Linked DNA regions of Homo sapiens: region 1 is linked to region 2. The links come from fine-mapping of genetic effects on gene expression. A gene starts in region 2. The other region holds a variant in brackets. All regions are shown on one strand. Distances are from middle to middle.

Region 1 (11,676 bases), 22 kb after region 2:
TGAACCCAGGAGGCAGAGGTTGCAGTGAGCCAAGATCGTGCCATTACACTCCAGCCTGGTGACAGAGCGAGCCTCCATCTCCAAAAAAAAAAAAACTCAGTAGCCTATAAGTTCTTCTGATGGGGACGTTAAAGGTAGGGTGGATCGAGCAGATTTTGTCTTTAAAAGAATATCTAGAAGGGTACCTTTACATGTTGCTTGTGCATTCTGTGATACGTAGTGCAGTTTTCCTTCTTTCTTGGAATTAGTCTGATTTTGAAAATAATATGTGAAACACAGTATTTGTTGGGTATGAGCCTAGAATAGAGAAAAAATACCCGGTGAAGTGTATATCATGAGCAAACATGGAAAACGATTGCCTGGTTGGTTTTTATTTTGCTTGTGCTTAAACTTTTTCAAGAGCAGTGTATATGTGGCATAATAGCAAACCTTTTAGCCACCTCTTTTAGGTCATAAACCTAACACACTCTGTACAAGGAGGCATACCATGTTTTGTAATGGGGAGGTGTAAATAATAACTTAAGTAAATAATTAAATTACTTTTGCCATTTGAAAGTTGGTTGGAAAAATAAAAACTTCGGAGCACCTAGCATAGTAATTTAGGGGATTTTCTTTGGTTTTTCAATTTGATGAAGTTGGTTTTATCTGTTAAGAATGAGGCTGGGCACGTTTGCTCACATCTGTGATCCCAGCACTTTGGGAGGGCAAGGTAGGTGGATACTGGAGCCCAGGAGTTCAAGACTAGTCTGGTGGCGAAACCTCGTCTCTACAAAAAATACAAATTCAGCTGGGTGTGGTGGCACACACCTGACAGTCAACAGCTAGTTGGGTGGCTGAGGTGGGAGGATCACATGAGCCTGGGAGGTGGAGGTTGCAGTGAGCCAATATTGCGCCACTGCGCTTCAGCCTGGGTGACAGGAGTGAGAACCTGTCTCAAAAAAAAGAATGTGCAAGAATAACAATAGTATATGCATGAGCAACTTGTCTGCCCTTCCTGAAGGAACAGCTCCTTCCTTCCTTCCTTCCTTTCCTTCCTCTTCCTCTTCCTCTTCCTGTCTTTCCCTTTTTATTTCTTCCTTAAGACAGGGTCTCCTCCTGTCACCCAGGCTGGAGTGCGGTGGTGTGATCCTGGCTCACTGCAGTCTTGACCTCCTGGGCTCAGATGATTCTCCCACCTCAGCCTCCTGAGTAGCTGGGACTACAGGCGCATCCCACACGCTCACTTAATTTTTGCGTTCTTAGTAGGGATGAGGTTTAACCATATTGCCTAGGCTGTCCTTGAACTCATGGGCTCAAGTGATCCTCCTGCCTCAGCCTCCCAAAGTGCTGGGATTACAGGTGTGAGCCACCACACCCAGCCAGCTTCTTTCTCACTGTCAATTTTTTACCATAGAAAACAGGACTCCAAAAATCATCAGATTGAAGGAAGATCACACAAAGGAATATAAGTTGCAGAATTTAAATTCCTCTCTTCCCACAGAGCAGCCTTGGGTACCAGCACTAGGCCAATAGGCTGGTCTAAGTTGGAACCATGTTTGTTCCTAGATAATTATACTGGGGTAACATCTGACAGGAAGGACGCAGGAGCAGGGAGCCTGGGGACAGCCATTATGGCATGTGTCGGGCTATCATCTCATGTCTCAGAGTCTCCACGGGACTGGCAGACAGACTGGGCGCCAGGTACGTGGGGGTCAGTGCCCAGGGCTTCCTCTGCCTTAGCAGACTCGGCTGCTTCTCGAGTCCCATTTCTCTTCTTGCACGGGCCATGTGAGAGCATGCCTTACTCTTGCATGTGCATTGACCTCAGTGTGGCCTTTCTCCTCCCCAGACTGGGATCAGATCCAGACAATAGACTCCTTGCTCAGGAAAGGTGGCTTTAAAGCTCCAATTACCAGTGAATTCAGAAAAACGATCAAACTCACCAGGTAAGCCATTGTCTTGTTTTCCTTATCATTTCAATTTAGTTGGGGTTGAATGGAGGATAATTTTGATGGGATGGAGAAGAAGTGTTCTCTGTGAATGTCCCTAAATCAAAGAAGTGTGGGTGAAGTTCACATTTTGAGGAAGCAGTGGCAGCAAAGGCAGAGACTCTCCCAGCATCCTGTGTGTCTCCATAGCTGAGCTGGGGGCACAGTTGGAGCAGGGCAGGTCTGCCCTGCAGGCTGTGGATGGCTTTGCCAGACCCACGTGGTTGGGAGGCTGAGGGGGAGACTGAGATTAGGAGACAAGGCTCTCTGGAAGTCCAGAGTCAGTTGAGGTGCTGCTTTCTGACTGCACATGTAGTCAGACGGCAGGAGATACAGGAGAGTAAGAAAATGCTTTTACAAAAAGTTAAAAGGAAATGCCTCTCATTTGTGGGGAATACTTCTAGGAGGAGGCTGCCTAGTGTAGTAGAATGCAGATGGACTTGGAGTTGGAATCCCAGCTCAACATGTACTAGCTGTGTGACCTGAGCCAGTTATTCTGCCTCTCTGAGCCTGTTCCCTGTCTGTAAGATGTGAATGATAATACCTTAGAGTTGTTTGAGGCTGTGCTAAGGTAATGTATGGAAAATTTCTAGCCTGTGGCCAGTCAACATTGTAGGTGATCAGGAGATGTTAGTTCTCTTCTCATCCCTATTGAAATCAGAAACACTGAGAGGTTTAGCTTCTATGGGCTTTTGTGGGCCTCTTTTGGGCCCCTCATCTGTAAAATGCTGAATAATCATATACTAATCTCACAGGTCTGTTTGGAAGATGACCCAGTGTTTTTTAAATGCTTTGGATTCCAAAAATTTTTAAAAAACAACAAAAAACTCTTCAAATACAAAGCATTATTATTATTATTATAATTTATTTGAACAGCCATTTCCCTGTCAAAATTCAGGAATAATCACCTTGCAGTGGAGGAGTGATTACAGTGGGAAAGAGATGGCTCTGGGTAAGGATTGTCACACCCAGCTCCTGTGGTCTGTAGTAGGCTCCATAGGTTTGTAACACCCCATGCTTCGCATCCTGACTCATGGCTCTTTCCAGAGCACAGCCAAAGTGCTATGAATTCTGTTCTGACGACCCTGTGATATGGCATATTCATCTGGGGAGTGAGACCTATATAGCCCCAAGGATCCTTTAACCTGCTTCAGCAGACTTTGACCCAGAATTAGGTATCTGTGTCCCTTTTAGTTATAATAACTTGTTTGTTGCTCTTACGCGAATTGAGGTTGCATTTCTGTCAAATGTATCACATTTACTCTGGAAGTAGATGTGCAGTTTGCACTGGGTTTTGGTGCAGCCATCTTCCAATCTGCCACCCGAGTAATTTGACCTTGAAATTCTTCATCCAGACCCCAGTAGCGGATTGCTTACGAGCAGCCTGATGATAAGCACGTGTAGTGTTTCAAGGTGGGATGTGCTGAAACACATTCTCGGGGGAATTGTGATTGTGCTTTTTCATCTTGTTCATTTGTAATAACAACATTGTTTTCTTGTGCTGTCTTTCATTTTCTGTAAGTAAGATTGCTCTTGGTCTTCCATTTTATTCTTTCAAAATGTGGAATAAGCTTTTGGTTTTTCTCTGCTGAGTGACTTTACAAAATGAAGCGTTTGGGGTTCCTAATACCCTTTCCTGTTTCCTCATACAGGTACCGAAGTGAGAAGGTGACAATCAGTTACGCAGAGTATATTGCTTCCCGACAGCACTGTTTCCAGAACGGCACTCTTCATGCCCCGCCCCTCTACAATCATTACTCCTGACACACGGCTGCATGACCAGTCCCACCCCCCCGTGGCCACCAATGGCTATGACATCATTGGAGCAGATGCCTCCTCTTCCTGGTCCAGTTACTTCTATTACTGCACCATTTTATGATGCTAGCTTCCGTTGCCAAGTCTGCCTCCCGCTGACTGAGGGAGGGTAGGGTTACCTTGAACGAAACAGAACTTGAGGGGCCCAAGCCTTATCTCAGCCTTTCCTCAATATGGGGTTCCGTTGGATTGGGGCTCCTCCATGACTAGTGGGAATTACTGTGGGTTCAGAAGACCCTTGTCTGGTATTTGCCACATGGGGTATTGGCCACACGCTGGAAGCTGAAATTGATGATCCCTGAAGGTTGAACCCACACACACCCCTGCAGCCTCCCCAGATGAAGTAGGTGTATTCCCCTGGCAGTCTGGGCAACGGAGACCAAGAAACATTTTTAGGTTGTTTTAAATTCCTTTTTTTAAACTTCCAGTTTATTGCGTACCAAGAGTTGATTACAACCTCCATGCTTCATAAGCGGACGCCACGTTAGGGTTGGACGTGGGCACCACGAGTCCTTTGAGGCTCCTGGACAGAGACCCACATCAAGATCGGAAGCCCTTTGGGTGGCGTTGCAGATCTCATTGCTCAGTAGGCCGTGAAGATTTTCATCCTCATCCCACTCTCAGTTGGATTTTCTGGCACTCTTCCTGCATTGAGTCTCCTGATTACTGAACAGAGCTCCGTCATGTAGCCTGCTGAGGAATGGAATGGAATGGAGATGCCCACAGGAGGTCCTGATGTCATCACTGCACGCAGGTGTGAGAGGAGAGACCTCTTCTGCACCGCCTGGCTACCTCACTCCTCTGCTGGTAGCAGTGCCTATAGCTGGACCTAAGTTCTCAGAAGCGTAGATGTGCAAACAAGCGATTGAGTTGGGCTTTAGGAGGACACATCATAGGAGAGAATCCAGGGTCTGTAAGCTGGTTTTCTTTTCAGGTGACATCCTGAGGGGCCTGTAAGCAGGGGAGCTCCTTTTTCTAGTTTGCCTGTAGAGGTGGGAAGACTGTTGGTGTTTCTGTCCTTTACAGGACATTAGGAAACAGTTGTGTAATTACACAAGGTGGACCTTTATCTTGCCTGACATGCTGGGAATCTTCACCCCACCAGGGCAAATTTCCAAATAGCTCATTTTATTCTAGGTCTTTCAAACTTTCATGTGACATATTTCCCTTTCCCATTGTTGCTGATTTCCAAATCGCTGTCAGCAATTTTTTCCTCTCTCCTTGCCTATTCTTCACTCATTTGGTGGCAAAGTTCATAGAACTAGGGGACTTGGAAGATGCTTTGAAAATATTGTTACAAAGGCACTGCTAAAATGATTCACAGGGAGAGTGGCCAGTTGGAAGAAGGATCCTAAGGATGTGACACTGGTTTTCAACAACATGCTTAGAGAACTCATGAAGTGGATTGGGTGTCAACCCAGTGAACATGTTTTTATTTAATTTATTTTTTGAAGTTTATGTGGTGATGGTGTGGCTTTCCGAAATGGGCAAATATTCAGAAGATCTTTTGCATTTTCTTCTGTCAGGAATGGGGAAGGGGAGTGGGGGCACAATCTGAGAAAGGACACCTGTGCTGTTCTAGGCATCGCTGGCAAGTTTGTGGGAAGGGATGGGCAAGGGTGAGTGGGTTTGCTCCACACCGTCCTGTGCTGCTCGAGAGGACCTGGGACGTGCGAGGGAAACGTGGGTGACGGTGCCTAGGCTGCGGCCCTTCACTGCTGTGCTGGGTTCCTGCAGCCTGCTACGTTTCCCTTGGCAATGTAAATGAAGATGGAGGGGTCGTTTCGTGATTTCCTGCTGCTGAGAATAAATGTCTTGTTAAAAACGTGGCAACGGTTACTCTTAGGTGCCATGGATCGATGTCAGGGTGGTCAGCTCTGGACTAAGCCACCCACCTCCAATTTGTACAACAGTATTGATACATAGGGCTACACTCATTACTGTTCAAGTGTTCTATGTTAAGAGTTGTGTTTAATTTCTAAAGATTAAAAAAAGCAAAAAAATTGGTGCTAAACCTTCACCCCTGAGCACGCTCAGTGAGACTGGTCATGCAAGCATTTACAGTGCCATGCTCCTCAAGCCGATTTTTTCTTGTAGAAATGTTGCCCTATTTGTCTTCTCCAATGTATGGTATGTTATTTTATTTTATTATTTTATTTTATTTTAT[TTTATTTTATC/C]GAGGGGGGGTACGATACCTGCCATTTAAGAAAATGAATAGAAAATTTTAAAACCCGAGAAATGGGGAAAAAAAAATCAGTGCACAAGAATTGGGCTGGTTAGGCCCAGCACCACACTGAAGTGGGCTCAGTGGTTTTTGGAGTGAAGAAGCCTTACTCCCTGCACATTCCCTCATGCTCCCACACAAGTCCAGCAATGGAAATGCTTGGGTTCCTCTTGCTTTGTCAGGGGACTCAGGAGTCGACCAAGGGAAACCATTTGGCCCCGTGAGGAATGGGCATTGTCAGTATCCGTCCTGAACGGGGCCTAGTCAGGAAGCGGTCTAGAAGTGTACGGTCACGGTCGCCTCATGAAAGTGTGTAGCAGGTGGCTCTCAGGAAAAATACCAAGTCTGGATCATCCATGTGGCAGCTTTGCATAGGGAGAGGATAGCTCCGAACTGGAACTGAACTGCCTTCTCTGCACGCTTGACCAAAGCAGTGATGAGGGCGGCCAGTACCTGCGGTGTGCGTGGTAGGTTTAAAGAAAAGGGAATGTTTTCTGCTGAGTGTTTCCTTTGTCCTTGGGCTGCTCGAGCTGGACAGTAGGTAACCACTGTTTTCAAGGACCAGCCCAATTTCTCTGGCTTGGTTCGGAGTTCGTTTCATCCCTAGCTGTGAGTGCCTTTTGGTCTGGAAAGTTGGCTTGTCTCATAATACCCACAGCTAGGACATTCTCTCTGTAATTATGAATTGTCCTTGTTTTACATTAAAAGAGAATGTCTTTGATCACTAGAGTCTGTCGGTGTTGGATTATTTCCACTGTGAGATTCTTAAAACTTTTTTGCTTCATAATAATAAAACAACTCATGTTAGAGACCCTTTCAACATGAAAGGTTTGTAGTTGAGACATTACATATATTTTATTGTTTATAATAAAAATCATCTATACAAAAGAAGTCCTGGGTGTTAATATTTTGCACAAGATCTGTTTTCCATGATGTGTTGACATCTACAATTTCACTAACTGTTGACGTTATTTTCTATTGAGATTCTGGAGCCTAGGGAGCTATGTGTTCTTTTTGTTCATTTCGTTCTTACTTCCCTGAAGCAAGAGACTATATGGCCTTCAGTGCAAAGACTTCAGACCAATTCTTTGTATTACACTTGGTTGCCTCTTGGCTATATAACTTCTGAGTGCAAATCATTGAACACTTTAACGAAGTATTGTAGAGAATAAATCATAATGGATAAAAATCGTTTTGTTCTGCTTTTTCTTTTTTAACCATGTGACTTGATTTATATGGAATGGTGATAACAGTTGTTTTATTTTTGAAGACAGGCAACAAGATAGTATTCGGTCAGCTTGGATATTTTGTGTGGTGCTCGTGACCCCACCCTTGTGTATATTTTTATGGTTGGTGGCAATGTCACTGGTGTTTTAGAGCCAAGTTCCATGAGCAATCATTCATTAGCCCTTTAAGATTTGGGTTTTTCCAGACAGGTTCGTTGTTTTTGTTAGATTTTCAAATGAGACTGACCTTACCAAAAAAAGCCAAAATCTCTTGGAGAGGAAAAAAACACTAAAATTTAATATAATTTGGTGATGTTAATTAATTCAAGCAAAGACCCTGGGACATACTGGTGCAGTCTGACCTAACCAGTGAAGTTTTGTTTTTGGATGGCCCAGAAAAGATGAGATGTGTTTGGAGGAAAGGACATCTTCAGTTTACGCTTTTTTTTTTTTTTAACTTGGCAAAAATAATTCAGTATTCCATCTGGGCAGCACCCTGGGGTCTGCTTGTCCCTCCCTGGCTCCAGCCCACTAACCCAACCCACCCAAAGATCAGCAGTTGACACACTATTTGCAGGGAGGTAGAATTTTTTTTTAAGGTACTCAATTCTGAGGCCCTTAGCGCTTAGCAAAGCTCAAAAACACATGGCTACAGATAAAAACGTGCTATCAGGGTTAGGTAATTTTGAAAACTGACTACCAGCAGCTGGTTAGACGTTTACAGGCTTTGTTAATAACTGATGTGTGTGAAGAGGAATTCGTTTCTTCAAGAGAAATTAATGTTCTAGAGATTACATTCCATAGTACCTGTAATTAAACAGCGTAGAGTTGCCTATGACTGATTTTGGGGGAGAGTGTGATTGGTGATAAAACAACATTTGTAATTTTAGCCATCACTGTTGACTTCTGGAGTGTGAAATAAACCATCTGATCAGAGGTCAGTGGTGCTAATTGTGGGAGTGGGGGTGGGGGAGGTGCTCTACAGCTGCTTTTAGATCAATCTAGGTCTGTAACCTTGGCTTGAATAATCTGACTGAAATACTAAGTGGGCTGGTTGAATGGCTTGACTGAACCAATGCTGTACAAGAATCAGAGTAGCAGCCTGAGGAATGTAATGCAAGTCCTGTCCCTTCTGTGTCTGTTTTCCTCATTAAAATCAAGCTCAGACAAGGATTCAAGGGCCTCTTCCTGCCGCTTATGCATTATTTCTACTCACACAGATTCTGTATGCCCTGGAAAATTGGTGGGGGGAGGACTGCAATTTCGAAACTATTGGAAAACAGAAAAGAGAGGTCTCCAGTTCACCATCAGTCCCTCAAGTTCCTGCTGCCAATCAGACCCCCTCCCCCAGTATGGCTATTCTGTGATCACATCGTGGCTCCCAACCAAAGAAATAACCCAGGGCGGGTGACAGCTAGAATCTTTTCTGGCTGGCAGTCCCACAGGCCTAAGCGCAAATCTTGGTCCTGCCATTTATAAGGCATTTCCTACTTTGTGACAGGACTGTGAATCTCCAAAGTAACCTGACCTTAGAGAAGTCATAGGTAAAAAGTAAAAATAGTAAATGTTTTGCCCAGACCCCAGCACATGGTGCAGTGGCTGGGCAGCTGTGGTTATCTGGCCTGTCACTCAGTGCTGGGTGTACAAGGGAACACCGGCAAGCATCAAACCCTCCGGAACCTTCAGCTTCTCTGAGCACGTGAAAGGGGGCGTGGCCAGCCCTTCAGGTCTGGGCAGGTTCCTTAGAGAAGCAGTGCTGAAGCAAAGAGCATGCCCTGGAGGAGGGAACTTCTCAGGTGGTGGGAGACCACATTGCCGGCACTGCAAGACAGCAAGACGCTGTGGACGAGCCCTCGCAGGAGATCAGGCTGCACAGGCCAGACAGGATTCCCAGGACTGCCTTCTAAAGGTTTTCTTTTTCTTTAGTTTTAAAATTTTTACTTTTTAATTTTTTAAGTCTTTTTAAAAATTATTATTTGAGACAGAGTCTCACTCTGTCGCTGTCGCCCAGGCTGGAATGCAGTGGCGCGATCTCGGCTCACTGCAACCTCCGCCTCAGCCTCCCGAGTAGCTGGGATTAAAGGCGCCCGCCACCACGCCCCGGCTTTTTTTTTTTTTTTTTTTTTCTGTAGAGACGTGATTTCACCATGTTGGCCAGGCTGCTTTCGAACTCCTGACCTCAGGTGATCTGCCCCCCCCACCCCCACCGGCCTCCCAAAGTACTGGGATTACAGGCGTGAGCCCCCGCGCCTGGACTTTGCCTTTTTTTTTTTTTTGGCAGGGTCTCTGTTGCCCAGGCTGGAGTGCAGTGAGGCAATCATAGTTCACTGCATCCCTCAAGCGATCCACCCGCCTCGGCCTCCCCGATCCCTGTGACTACAGGCACGCGCCACAACGCCCGGCTAATTTTTGTATTTTTTAGAGACGAGGTCTCACTATGTTGTCTAGGCTGGTCTTCAACTCCGGAGCTAAAGCGATCCTCCAGCCTCGGCCTCCCAAAGTGCTGGGATTACAGGCGTGAGCCACCGTGCCCGGCACAATTCATTTTTTATTAAATCAACAGAGTTTACAATATGACCATCTAAACATTGTTGACTAATGAGCTAAGATATTGTTGACTAATAAGCTATGATTATTTACCTTATTGTACAACCTTTTGTTTTCTCCAGTGTCGAAAACAGCATCATTTTTTATTTGCTTTTTTTTTTTTTTTAATATATTTTTTGAGACGGAGTCTTACTCTGTCGTCCAGGCTGGTGTGCAGTGGCGCGATCTCAGCTCCCTGCAACTTCCGCCTCCCGGGTTCAAGCGATTCTCCTGCCTCAGCCTCCCCAGTAGCTGGGATCACAAGCGCCCACCACCATGCCCGGCTAATTTTTGTATTTTTAGTAGAGATAGGGTTTCACTATGTTGCCCAGGCTGGTTTCAAACTCCTGACCTCAGGTGATCCCCTCGCCTCGGCCTCCCAAAGTGCTGGGATTACAGGCGTGAGCCACTGCGCCCGGCCGTCATTTGCTTAATTTTCTACGCATCACCCAAATGTTCCAACAGACGTGTGGTAAAAGCCTCTGAATATCATTGTCCGCGTACTCAGAAGTATCAGATAATCCACCACAAATCAATAAAATTTTAGAAGTTTAAGTCGGTGAAGGAAATTGGACCCGGTACTTTCGGAGCCGGCTGCCCTGCTCTCCATCAGCAGGCGTTCCTGCATCTCATCTGACCTCCTCCGTCCAGAAAGGCGTAGGGACCTGCCCCAGGACGTCTGCGCGGCGAGGAGCATGGGAGAAGAGAGGGAGTGCAGGGCGCCCCTCGGTGGCGGGGAGCCTCCAGGACCTCACCAACCGGTCCCCTCGCTGCGCCCCGTCCGGCTCGCACTCCCGGCCCCGCCCACCCCTCGGGGCCCCTCCCGAGACCACGCCCCTTCCGCGGCCGTTGCTCCGCGCTTCTGCTTCCGGCGGCGCTGGTGGTGGCGCGCGGCGCGGCGCGGCGATGGCGGCGGGTGGCAGCGATCCGCGGGCTGGCGACGTAGAGGAGGACGCCTCACAGCTCATCTTTCCTAAAGGTTGGGCTCGGGGCTGCCAGACTCCCCCGCGCCACTTCGCGTGGTCGCCGCAGGCCTGGCGTTATGCGCGCTTCGCCCAAGGCCCTGCCTCAGCGGCGGCTTGGGCAAGCCCCAGCGCGGCGTGGGGCTGGGGAGGGAACATGGCCTTGGGAGGGACCATGGCCTTGGGAGGGACCGCCTGGGCAACTGGGTTATTTTATGTGATAAACTGCGAAGTTCCGGGGACCTGTGTCAAAGATAAACAAAGCCGGACACTCAGGTGGTAAGGACAGATTTTTAAACAGTAATATACTGTTGCACTAGGGAAAAGAGCCCAGCGTGAACCGAACTCAACTTCGATTAGTACAGAACCTCTGGGCGTTTTAACGGAGAATTAGGGAATAAGGATGTGGTGAGCGGGAGCTCGGGGGAGTCGGGGAAGTGAGAAATGTAAAAAAGCGGGAAGAGGAGGATTGGTCCGTGTGAACGCAGCTTGGTTTGTTGACTGGCGCACCTGTCGAAGTTAGGCCCCTACCCTCCCACAGAGGCAGAGAGACAGAGTCCTATCTTCAGCTGTTGGCTGGAACAAATTATTTTGGCAGCCTTGAGTTTTCTCACGCACGCACTTTAAGTGGTTGGGGAGGGTATTCCTAGGGATGAGGTCTTCAGCTCAAAAACTTGAAAATGTATACAGCTGTCTTACACTTTATTGATTTATTGATTTATTGATTGAGATAGGGTCTCGCCCTCTTGTTGAGGCTGGAGTATAGTGGCATGATCAGAGCCCACTGCAACCTCAACCTCTCAACCGCTCAAGCTATCCTCCCACCTCAGCCTCCCAAGTAGCTGAGACCACAGATGCACGCCCCCATACCTGGCCCATTAAAAAAATTTTTTTCG
Region 2 (11,676 bases):
GGATTACAGGCGTGAGCCACCGCGCCCAGCCTTGGCCCAACATCTTTAATCATGAAAATCTGAGAGTGAGCTACATTTAGTGTGCATGAAGGAACCATATTTTTCCTACCTTCCATCTCAATCCCCTCACTGAGGTTGTAAAACAACAGGAGATCTTGTAAAAAGCTTAAATCTCTAGATTCAGGGAAGAGAACAAGATTGCTTTAAAAATAATGCCGGACAAACAAATTGTGGCATATTGTTCAATGTGTATTGAATGGCATAGTATTCTGTGCATCAAAGAAAAAGAATGAACTATAGTTGCACATAAGCAAAGGGATGAATTTCCTGGACATAATGTTGAACGAAACAGACCAGACCCAAAGGAGTATGTACTGGATGAGTCGATTTGAATGTCCGTGAATTCAAGAGCAGGCAAAACTATCCCACAGTGATAGAAGTCAAAATAATGGGTATCTTTTGGAGGGGATTAGGAACGGGGAGAAGGCACAAGAGAACCTTCTGAGCTGCTAGAAATATTCCACATCTTAAATTGGATGATGGTTACATGGATGGACACTAATGTAAGAATTGGTCAAGCTGTATACTTGAGCTGTGTGAATTCTAAACATGTATGTCCTCTCTCAATAAAAAAGCAATATAAAATGCTTGGTTACAGAGTAGCCATTTAGAGAGTATTTGTAGAATAAATGAATACGTGACTTGAGCTCTCCAACTCTGTTGCATTTATTTCATTGGTAGTACTAGTTTTTTTTTTTTTTTTTTTTTTTGAGACAGAGTCTGGCTCTGTTGCCCAGGCTGGGGTGCAGTGGCGTGATCTTGGCTCACTGCAAGCTCCACCTCCTGGGTTCACGCCATTCTCCTGCCTCGGCCTCCCGAGTAGCTGGGACTACAGGCAACCGCCACCATGCCTGGCTAATTTTTTGTATTTTTGGTAGAGACGGGGTTTCACTGTGTTAGCCAGGATGGTCTCAATCTCCTGACCTTGTGATCCGCCCGCTTCGGCCTCCCAAAGTGCTGGGATTACAGGCATGAGCCACTGCGCCCGGCTGCTAGTACCAAAAGTTTAGAACTTTTTAAATGTTAAATTCTACACCCAAGTGACATACAAAGTTTAAAACACATCTTCTCAGGCTGGGCGCAGTGGCTAATGCCTGCAATCCCAACACTTTGGGAAGCCAAGGTGGGAGGACTGCTTGAGCCCAGGAGTTTGGAGACCAGTCTGGGCAACATAAGGAGACTCCATTTTCTACAAAAATTAGCTGGGTGTGGTCGTGCGTACCTGTGATCTCAGCTATTTGGGAGGCTGAGACAGGAGGACTGCTTGAGCCAAGGAGGTAAAGGGTGCAGTGAGCTATGGTCGTGCTGCCACTGCACTGCAGCCACACTCCAGCCTGGGCAACAAAGCAAAACCCTGTCTCAGAAAAAAAAAAAAAAGAAAGAAAACCTTCTGAGTAATGTGGCTTAACAAACAAAACACTAGAGGGCTTATTTATTTAAACTACTTTATACCTCTGAAATATTCAACCCAGGTAGACAACTGTATATACAAAGATTTGTTTTCATCAGATAAGTACCGATCATACCTTTGACGTGCCCAAGTGGACACAGCGGCGGAGGACACACAGGAGACAGGGGCCATCTCTGGAGTCTCTCTGGGCCTGCCTTTTGTGAAGGGGAGAGCACAGATGCAGACCAAGGCCAGACTCACTTCCAGTTGAGAAATGGGACAAATGGGACAGATAAAATCTACATCACCCACCAAGATCCTGTCTGAAACCTTATTTCATTCCTACTAGTTAGCAAATGCCTTTAGCTCATCATTGATTGCTCACAAAAGGAGCAAATCCAGAAGAATGTGTATGCCCAGTATACAGGCTAACTTCATGCTGATCTCAACATTCTAATGCTCACGAGGCTCAGTTACTGAGCATTTTCACCACACCAATCTGATAAGGTTTATAATGTACAGACTTATTGGTATTTAAATCTCATAACATCCCTATGAGGCAGGAATGCTATAATCCCCATTTTACAGATAATAAGCCTGAGTCACTGATATAACTTGTTCACAGGTATTCAGTCAGGGCTGGGATTTGGACCTATGCAGGCTGATTCCACAGTGGACTCTTAACCATTACTACATATTCTTTTTTTTTTTTTTTTTTTTTTGAGATGGAGTTTCGCTCTTGTTGCCCAGGCTGGATGGAGTGCAATGGCGCGATCTCAGCTCACCGCAAACTCTGCCTCCCAGGTTCAAGCAATTCTCCTGCCTCAGCCTCCCGAGTAGCTGGAATTACAGGTATGCACCACCACGCCCGGCTAATTTTGTATTTTTAGTAGAGACGGGGTTTCTCCATGTTGAGGCTGGTCTCGAACTCCTGACCTCAGGTGATCCTCCTGCCTCGGCCTCCCAAAGTGCTGGGATTACAGGCGTGAGCCACCGCGCCCGGCCATTACTACATATTCTTAACCAACCGAGATAAGAAATAATAAAAGTTGTACATAAGGGAGGCAGACAATTTGTTTTGGGGTATTCTGATGAGTGGTATAGCTATGTCACAGCAGATTGGGGTGACATTTGAGGATCATGCAGAAGCCTTGAACCACCCAGCGTCTCTGCAGTTCTCCTTTCCCAAGTATATTATCTGCCCGCTGCTTGCTGGTTTCCATCTTCGTTTATTCAGTTGAGCCACAAATAATTGTATGCCTATTACATACCAGGTTTCTGTATTATGTACAGGAAATGAGAAGATAAATAAGAGACAGCCTCTTCCATATTTATGGCATATACTGCCCTCATTTTAGTTTCTTCCTCCTGTTCATAATTTCATTGTTTGTTTTTGCATCAGTTCAAACTGTTGCTTGCTTATGTGAGGTGACCTCAAAGTGACTTTTTGAAAGTCCTGACCCTTTGCCTTTCAACATCATTTAAGAACAGCAATAGCATCTGGATCTTCTCAGTAAAATGCCTTTTCAACAGCTCAAAGCAAGGCTTGTTTTTGTTTTAATTTGGGAATGTTTCAAGTGAAACTTAGTTCCATCATTTAATTCCTGGCAGCCCAATAACGAGGGGGCAATAACTCCCTTATCTGTGGGCTATTTAATGACTATATAGTACCATCCTGGGAGCAATAGACTAAGGCCTTCTTCCAGATGCCATGTTTTAAGGTTTTCAGCTGGAAAGACCGTCACTCCGTAAAATTTATTTTGATTATTTTAAGTCAGGATTTGGCCTTCTTATTCAGAAACAAAAAGAAAAAAACTGGCCCCTGGCTTTCTGCCTCCTGCACTTCTGGCTCTAGGCCATATGATCATCTAATTTCTAGTTTTTCAGGCAGACAGAGAAGGTTAGAAACTGGCAACCGTGTCCTCAACAGCAGATAAGCGTATCAAGTCTGTAACAGGAATTAAGAAGACTGCTATAGAATTTTTTTTTTAAGTCACCTCCTGTTTCACAAAGCATAGCTGTCTCTTCCTTTTCGTCCTCCTTGCCCATTCTCTTGGAGAAGTCCAGGTCCAAGAGGCACCAGACACTCAATTGACTAGGGTTTTGCTGCCTATAGGTAATTATGCTAAAAGTCTAGAGTAGTAGATCTTATGCTCGCATAATTATGCATTCTAGAGCAGAAGGTTTTTGCTGGAAAGCTTCACTGTTAGATATGATTTGCATTTTTTACTAGATACTTGTCTTTGGTCTTTGAGGACAAACATATCAAGGATTCCTTTGTGCATCAACAGAAAAGCAAAACACAAAACAGCCTATATGTGAGCATGGGGCCGTATTTTAATACAAGAAAGACATTGCTCTAGAACATGGCTCGCCTTTGCTTCAGGGCCTAGCAGTTTATTTTAGCCATAAGGGTAAGGGAGCAGGTCAGAAATGACTTTTAGTGTAATCCTATCTGTAATTAAAAATACAAATGCTGTCATAAGATCAAATGTTATCAAAAATCAGTATTTAAAATTAAATTTACCCCCAAATTTCTTTCAAAAAAAATTTGTAATGTTCTTTTTCAGTGAAGCCTTTGCACTGCTAGAGCTGAAGAATGTGATCAATCGGCTTGTTGAATAATCCTGCACAGTAGGTATTCCGCTGAAGCCAACTCTAGCTGGGGGCTCGAGAGCGAAAGACACAGATGGGGCCCTGCCGCCCCTCGAAGAGTCGGATGGGCGCGCCCGTCCCCGGTGCATCAAGAGGCTGGCCCGGCCAGGGGCGAGCGGCTGGCACCGAACCCCGCGCACTTCGCCGCGGGCGGGGCTGGGCCGTAGTCGGCTCGATTTAAGGCTGGTATCCAAGGCTGCGGCCGGTCAGGCGAGGCGAGGCGAGGCGACGTGAGCGAGGGTGCTTAGGGAGAACAGCCGCTGGCAGCTCAATGCTGGGTGGCTAACGCTCGACGGTGCCTGGCAGCAACCCGGCCGACAACCCGACGCGGATCCCGAGCTGCGTCGCGGACAATGCTGCGGGCCCGTCCCGGACTACGACTCCCGACGGGCTCTGCGACCGCTCCGGGGCGGCCCAGCGTGCACTGCGCCGGCCAGTTTTGACAGCCGGGCGCCCTACTCGGCTAGCTCTGCTCCCAGCCAGGGACGCTGGCCTTCTCGCGGCTTTCCCCCGATGTCTCTCTTTATTCCAGCTGCCTGAAACTCGGTCCCACGAATGGCAGGCAGCGTCCAAAATTCAACCCCGTAAAGCCAGCACCAGCCAATAAAGCGCACGGATGGAGGCCACGTGACAGCAGTGGGCCGGCCCTCCGGCTGAGCCCTGATCTCTATGGTTTCCGCGGCTCGCTAGAAGGAGTGTGGTCCACTGGAGGACTCCCTACATTCTTCCTCCATTACCTCACTGCCTCCGGTGGCTGCTGGGATACCGGAGGACTCGGGTCCCGGCTCGACTCAGTCCTCCAGCCGCCCGGGGAATACCTCTAGTTCTTCCCGGCCGCCGCCGCCGCCGCCGCCCCGCCGCTTCCTCCTCCGCCCGCCGGCCTCCTTCGCCCCGCCCCGTCCGCGCAGCGCGTCCGGCCCGCCCGCAGGCCAGCTTCTCTCGGGAGCCCCCACCCAGGCGCATGGCTCCATGAAGCAAGAGGAGGAGGCAGAGCGCGAGAGGTCCCGTCCGCCCCAGCCGCGTCTGGGCCAGGAGAAAAGGTGGGAAACTCGGGCTGCGCCGCACCCTTCTCCCCGCTGCCGGGCCAGGCCTCCCTCGGTCCGCCGCCGCCTTGCCCGCCGGGCCTGTTCTCGCCGGGGCGGGCGGCGGGGCCGGGAAGAGACCCCGCGGTCCTGGGGCGAGGGTCCGGGGGCAGCGGGGGGGAGGAGTCCCGGGCGGCGGGCGGGGCCTCAGGCCATGTCCCAGCGGAGGGCAGGGGGTCGGGAGGCACTGCCGGGGAGGGGCGGGCGGCGCCGTGCCCCGGGCCGCGAGGCTCGGCTCCCGCTCCTGGTCCTTGTCTGCACTCCCTCCAGGAAGCAGGCTCGCTCGCTGTAAAGTTTGGTGGTCTCCGGCGCCGCCTGGTGGCCCCCACCCACCGTCCCGCCGCCCCGCCGCCCCCTCCCCCGCCCGGCGTCTGGATTCCACCCCCGCGGCTCGGCCCAAGCTGCTCTACCCGTCGCTCCATCGTCTCCCCAACTCCCCAGCGCCCCGGACCCTCTTTCCTCATACCCTCGTTTCTCACCTTTCACCCTGTCCCTCGGCCCGCTTTTCCCCTCCCCGCTCTGTCCTGTCGTTTTCTTAACACTCTTCACACGCGCACTTTCTCCTCCTCCTCTTCTCTTTTTCGCACCCCTACTCTTGGGCCCTCCTTCCTTAACCTCCGCTGGCCCCCCATTCCATGATCCGTCCACCTGACACGCTGGGTTTCATGCCTCTCTTTCCCAGGCTGTGGGTTGTGCCCTTCACTCCTTGCCCTCCTACATTCCCTGTCCTGATCTGAACTCCTCTCCTTGCCATGCTCCCTCACCCTTATCCCTCTGGGCCTTATCCTCTTTCACTGCCCTCTCCTAGGATAGAGTGGGTGGGGCCTCTCCCACCCACAGGAGATGTAAACAGTCTCCTGTTTACTTACATCTTTGGGAGTAGCTCAATTCTCTAGTAGTGGGGAGAGTTGGTGAAGAGATCAGGAAGAGATTTCTTCGAGACTAAGGATGGATGACCCTTAGCAACAGTGACCGTCTCCTCCCGGCATAGCAAGATGGCCTGCCCTCAGGTCCCTGCCTCTGGCGTGCTGTCCAGTAATTCTTCAGTTCTGTCTTTGCAGAGGATTGGGAAATTTATTTGTGTTCTGAAACCGGCGGAGAGCTTTTAAATGGTCTCTTCTGGCCTGAGAGCAACTTTTGCTCTGCATCTGTGGTGGGGAAGTTTTAATGTGCGTCTCATGCTCGAGTTCAATAAATAAAACCTTTGATTCTCAGTGTCCTCCCTTCTTGCTGATGACGCTAAGGATGAGATGATTCAGGGCATGGGACTTCACGGCTGCCTCAGATTTAGAGTTTGCAAGGTTTTGAAATAAGGAGAGCCTGTTCTCTAGCTATTTGCTGTGCCCCCCACCCCCCCGAAATTGCTCTGTCGAGTTGTGATTTTTCAGAAACCGTATCTATCTTACCTCTGCACTACCTGGGTGTTTGTTCACTGCACCTGCATTTCCGTCTTAGGTACAGGAAGAAGGAATGGAATCGGAAGGAAGAAAATTCATTCCAGAGACAAAATAGCTCCCCTCCTCTGTTGTAGCTGTTCCTCTGGCAATACAAACTTTCTGCTTTCAGTGAGTATTATCTTGGGCATATTTAGAGTAGAGCATCGTTGTAGTTTTTGATTTTAGGCATGTGCTAGGATTTTGGGATGTAGGTGTGTTTTCATTTGTATTTTTCTACTTCCATGAGGGGGTCCTAATGTTGATGAAGTTTTTCCGCTTGTTCCCTTTTAAAATAATTTAAATATGCAAAGGCAAGTTTGTTTTTCATACTCCCATTAGAGTGAGCTAGGTGGTGGCGTGGCATGATCTTTCCTTTATATTTCTAGTTTGTAAGGTCTGGCTCCTCACCCTTCCCAAATGAGTTTCTCAATACAACCAAAGAGGTTGTCTTAAGTTTTAGGGTAATTAACTCAGAGGTTAATGCAGTTCCTGATCAAAGTCAATTATTGGTTCTCTTTTCTATAGTTTCAGTCCTGAGAGACTTTTGGAACATTTTGTCCTAAATTTGCAATAGTGAAGATATTTTCTTGAAAATCCCATCACAGATTTGAAGATAATTAAAATTTTTCACTGTAAACTTGAAACAAAGTTCTGGGGAAAAATTATGACTGCTGTGCCCTCTTGAGTTGATTAATGATAGTATGCTAACACTTAGGAGAGAGTTTTCAGAGTGTTTCACTTCTTGGTGAAGCCTCCCAGCCCCTCTGAGGGACACAGGGGATAAATGTTTTTATTTTACAAATGAAAGAACTGAGGCCCAGAAAAATGTGGCACCTTGCTACAGGTCACATAGAAAACAGAGGGGAGGTGAAAAGAGTTTTGACTCCTAGGTACATGTTTTTCTTTAAGCTAAGTTGAAATGAAAATGTATAGTTCTGGCCAGGCGCAGTGGCTCAAGCCTGTAATCCCAGCACTTTGGGAGGCCGAGGCAGGTGGATAACGAGGTCAAGAGATCAAGACATCCTGGCCAACATGGTGAAACCCCGTCTCTACTGAAAATACAAAAATTAGCCAGGTGTGGTGGCATGTGCCTGTAGTCCTCAGCTACTTGGGAGGCTGAGGCAGGAGAATCGCTTGAACCCGGGAGGTGGAGGTTGCAGTGAGCTGAGATCATGCCACTGTACTCCAGCCTGACGACAGAGCGAGACTCTGTCTAAAAAAAAAAAAAGAAAAGAAATTTGCAGTTCTTTATGTTTTTAAAAATCTATAAAGCTTAAAAACAATTGTTGCCAGGCATGGTGGCGTGCATCTGTAGCCCCAGCAACTTGAGAAGCTGAGGCAGGAGGATCGCTTGAGCCCTGTAAATAGCCACTTCAGCCTGGGCAGCATAGCAAGACTTCATCTCTTTAAAAAAAAAAAAAAAAAAAAAATTCTGGGCACAGTCACTCATGCCTGTGTAAATCCCAAAACTGGGAAGCCAAGGCAGGAGGATTGCTTGAAGCCAGAAGTTCAAAACCAGCTTAGTAACATAAGGAGACCCTGTCTCTACAAAAGGAAAAAATTTTTAAAAATTGGCCGAGTGTGGTGGTGCATGGCGGTGGTCCCAGCTACTTGGGAGGCTGAGGCAGGAGGATCTCTTGAGCACAGAAGTTCAAAGCCGCATTGAGCTGTGATTGTACCACTGCACTCCAGCCTGGACCGCAGACGGAGACCCTGTCTCCAAAACAAAAAGGAACAATTGTATAGGTATATCTGTGATTTGTGGGGGAAAATTTTCACACACCAAATGTTTTGGATGTGTGTATGATGGGGGTTTCAAAAATAAATGATTATTTGGTATGGTTACCAGAATGTATGTGGGTTTTTCTGACTGTTTCCTGGAATAGTTCCATAAGTAGGACAGAATTATAGCTCAGGTGCCATTTCAGTACCCATAATGTAATTATTAAATTGAATTTCAAGTCAACTCTGTGTCACAAAGGAAACAACAGCTTGTTCCCTTCTGTGAAAAGCTTGATTTGAGCAAACATCTAAATGCTAAATGATAACAGAAGAAAATGCAGAGACCCCCTTTTTCTTGGCCTTTTTCCCACCTCCCAAATCTTTATGAGATCGTGCCCTCGAATAAGCTGTTTTGAGGCTTGTCTTCAAAAGGTGAATCTAGATTTTTCCCCCCACCTTTAGGCTTTTCTAGATATTTTAATCTGGTGGTTGTGTGAAACCTAACTACTTTGACAACAGTTTTTAAAATTGGTATTCAGTATCTATCAAGATGTCTACAATAATAGCATTTTAAGCAAATTTAGTCTCTATTTTAGTGTATGTCTGTAAGCTTAAATGAGGACTCTAGTGGAATAAAACTGTACAACTCTCAAGGCAGCCAAGTATTTTTCTCTGTGTTTTCTGGCATCTCAGAATGAAAAGAAACAGTGGATGATTTATTAGAAGCCATTGCTCTCCAAAGAAGGAAACCATCAAGGTCATGAGAGTAATAATCCCATGTTAATAATATGATCTTTTAGATTACAAGGTCATTCTTAATGGAATTGTATTAGGAGGGCATTATTCCTCTAGAAATTGTAAGCACTCAGAGCTGTGTTATTTTTATAACCAACGCTACTTTTATCAGTGGGGTAGGGAAGTATTGGTAACAGCAGACACTTAATAGATAGTAGTTATGTGCCACAGAACTGCCAGGTGCTTTTCGTGTCTTTCACAGCTCACAAATAAACCTCTGTGGTAGCAGGAGCCCAAGTCCACAGAGATGTGAAAACTTGCCTGAGTTGCGTAGCTGGTACGTGGCAAGTCAGACTTGGGATCTGAGCTGAGATTGTAACCTCAAAATCTAGGTTCTGTCCCCTGAAGAGGGGAGCTGCTCTGGGAAAATGGGAGTTATTTTTTTCAGTGGACTTAGTAGCCTTGGAAGGGACCTGCAGTGAGAGAGGAAGGTCCTTTTGCCCAGCCAGACACATGAGTGGGGGCATCATCACATCTTTGTGTCAATAGCAGTCTCAATACCTGGTTTGTAAATACTAGCAGTGTATGAGAAATAGTTTGTATTAATCCCTGAAACCACAAATGGCCACCCAGGCAAATAAATTCTCCAGTGGGTAGTTCTGAAAGTGCTCTATCATTGAAAAAGGAAAAAATGATTCTTCCCAACTGCAGTTTAGATTGTCTGACCTATCAAAAGAAAGCCTTGAGCCACCTCGAAGTGGCACCTGAAGCCAGTTCAGAACTGACAGCTACTGGTATGTTTTAGCAAGGATGACAGCTACCAGCATACATTGGACCAAGAAGTGAATTTAGGTGATAGTTGACCTAATTTTTAAAATGAATTATCCACAGTGGCTATCCATTTTGCTATGAATAATTATTAAACTATCCCTTGGTTTGGGCTGAATAGAATGGAGATTGTTGATAAGAATAGGTGCTTGTAATTCAGTCATCCTCAGGTTCTGCGATACTCCACTGTCAGCAGGCAAACTTAAATTATTAGATGTGTAGATAAGATTGTTGGTGACAATCAGGAGTGTGTGTGTGTGTGTGTGTGTGTGTATACTGTATGTAGGGCACCATGTTAGGTGCAGTGAAAGATGAAACAGATGCCCTGCGGCCTCTCAGGCTCAGGGTGATGCCGAGTTCAGTGCTGGCTGAAATTTTTAAGTTGTAAGCTGCTCCAAATAGCAGGGCAGTGCTCAGCGTCCCCACAGAGAGGGAGGAAGAGTCACTGAGTGGCCCTTGTTGCAGGCCCTAATGAAGTTCAGGGCCCCCTTGAGTGTGTACATCAGGTGGAGAAGAGAGAACGTCCTGCAAGCACAGGGCAGATGAGGACGCCGCAGCATCACTGAGGAAGGCTGGTGACTTTAAGCACTAAGGGCACACTTTATTTGACACCTGCAAGGTTAGGAGGTCTTAAGAGGTAAAACAGTGGTTGCTGTGATTTCTGCCAGCTTTTTGTTGAGGTATGAGTATTGTTTCCATCTGGTGGAAACCTAGTTTTAACTAGCTTATTCTTATTGGTGGTCCTAATGGATGAACAGGAAGAAAAGGGACTCTCACCATGGCCCTTGAGCTGAGCTTTGTGCAAGTAACCAGCTGAAGGCCTGGAAGGGTCTTGGTTATATATACTTTCATAAAGCAAGGGTTTTTACACCTGATTTCAAACTTTGTCTTTTTCCTTCCGTTTTTGTGGAGAATGGGATCTTACTGTGTTGCCCAGGCAGGTCTCAAACTCCAGGGCTCAAGCTATCCGCCTGCCTCTGCCTCTCTAAGTGTAGGGATTACAGGCGTGAGCTCCTGCGCCTGGCTTCTCTTATTTCAAATGAACCAGCTTCACAGTAATTTGTACTATGCTCACAGTACCATCCTTGGTAGTTTTTATAAAGTTTGGCAGGGAAGTTTGGCGGGCACAGATTTAGAAGAGGTAAGTATGTCATTAAGTGGAGCATTTGTTTTTGGCTGATCAGAAGGATAGTCTGATCTATTAGAATGCTATTATTCTGAAGTACCTTACCTAGTACTCACAAAGCCGGGCTGCTGGAGGACCAGGTGTCTCTTGATCACTGTAGGGCAGTGCTGAGAGCTGAGTCGGGAACTACTTAGTTGTGGATGAGATACCTACATTGTTGGAATAGGACTAGAGAATCTCGAACCTAAAGAGAAAATTTCGATGAAATTTGTTGATAGTGGTTGATGTTTAAGAAGTCTTTGTTTATTACCAGCACCTTGGTTTACATTCTTTGCCTGTAGTTGTTATATATTAGTCCATTTTTGCATTGCTATAAATACCTGGGACTGGTAACTTATTTAAAAAAAAGGCTTAATTGGCTCAGGGTTCTGCAGGCTGTACAGACAGCATAGCAGCATCTGCTTCTGGGGAGGCCTTGGAGGTTTTACTCATGGCGGAAGGCAAAGCAGGAGCGGGCACATAACATAACAAATGCAGGAGCAGGAGAGAGTTGGGAGGAGGTGCCACACACTTTTAAATGCCCAGATCTTGAGAGAAGGCGCTCACTGTCATCACTATCAGGAGTGCAGCACCAAAGGTTGG

What was found.
Region 1: its variant is fine-mapped to the expression of AMMECR1L in whole blood (INTERVAL, PIP 0.96).

The regions. Positions count from the first base shown.
Region 1 is chr2:127,857,149-127,868,824 of GRCh38, reverse strand. It overlaps AMMECR1L (AMMECR1 like), which reads left to right. Exons shown (of 8, transcript NM_001199140.2): 7 at 1,829-1,925; 8 at 3,620-7,195. The coding sequence ends at 3,731. POLR2D (RNA polymerase II subunit D) reads left to right here and starts at 10,670. Exons shown (of 4, transcript NM_004805.4): 1 at 10,670-10,797. The coding sequence starts at 10,725. It also overlaps the pseudogene LOC107985803. RefSeq lists a silencer at 10,526-10,835 and an enhancer at 11,066-11,235. The variant TTTATTTTATC/C (reference allele first, on the strand shown) is at 5,950.
Region 2 is chr2:127,879,279-127,890,954 of GRCh38, reverse strand. AMMECR1L (AMMECR1 like) reads left to right here and starts at 4,999. Exons shown (of 8, transcript NM_001199140.2): 1 at 4,999-5,145; 2 at 6,643-6,752. It overlaps LOC107985944 (a long non-coding RNA gene), which reads right to left and starts at 3,837. Exons shown (of 2, transcript XR_001739707.2): 1 at 1,587-3,837. It also overlaps the pseudogene LOC107985803. RefSeq lists silencers at 4,119-4,168, 4,879-5,048, 5,059-5,108 and enhancers at 4,399-4,658, 4,669-4,748, 4,533-5,128.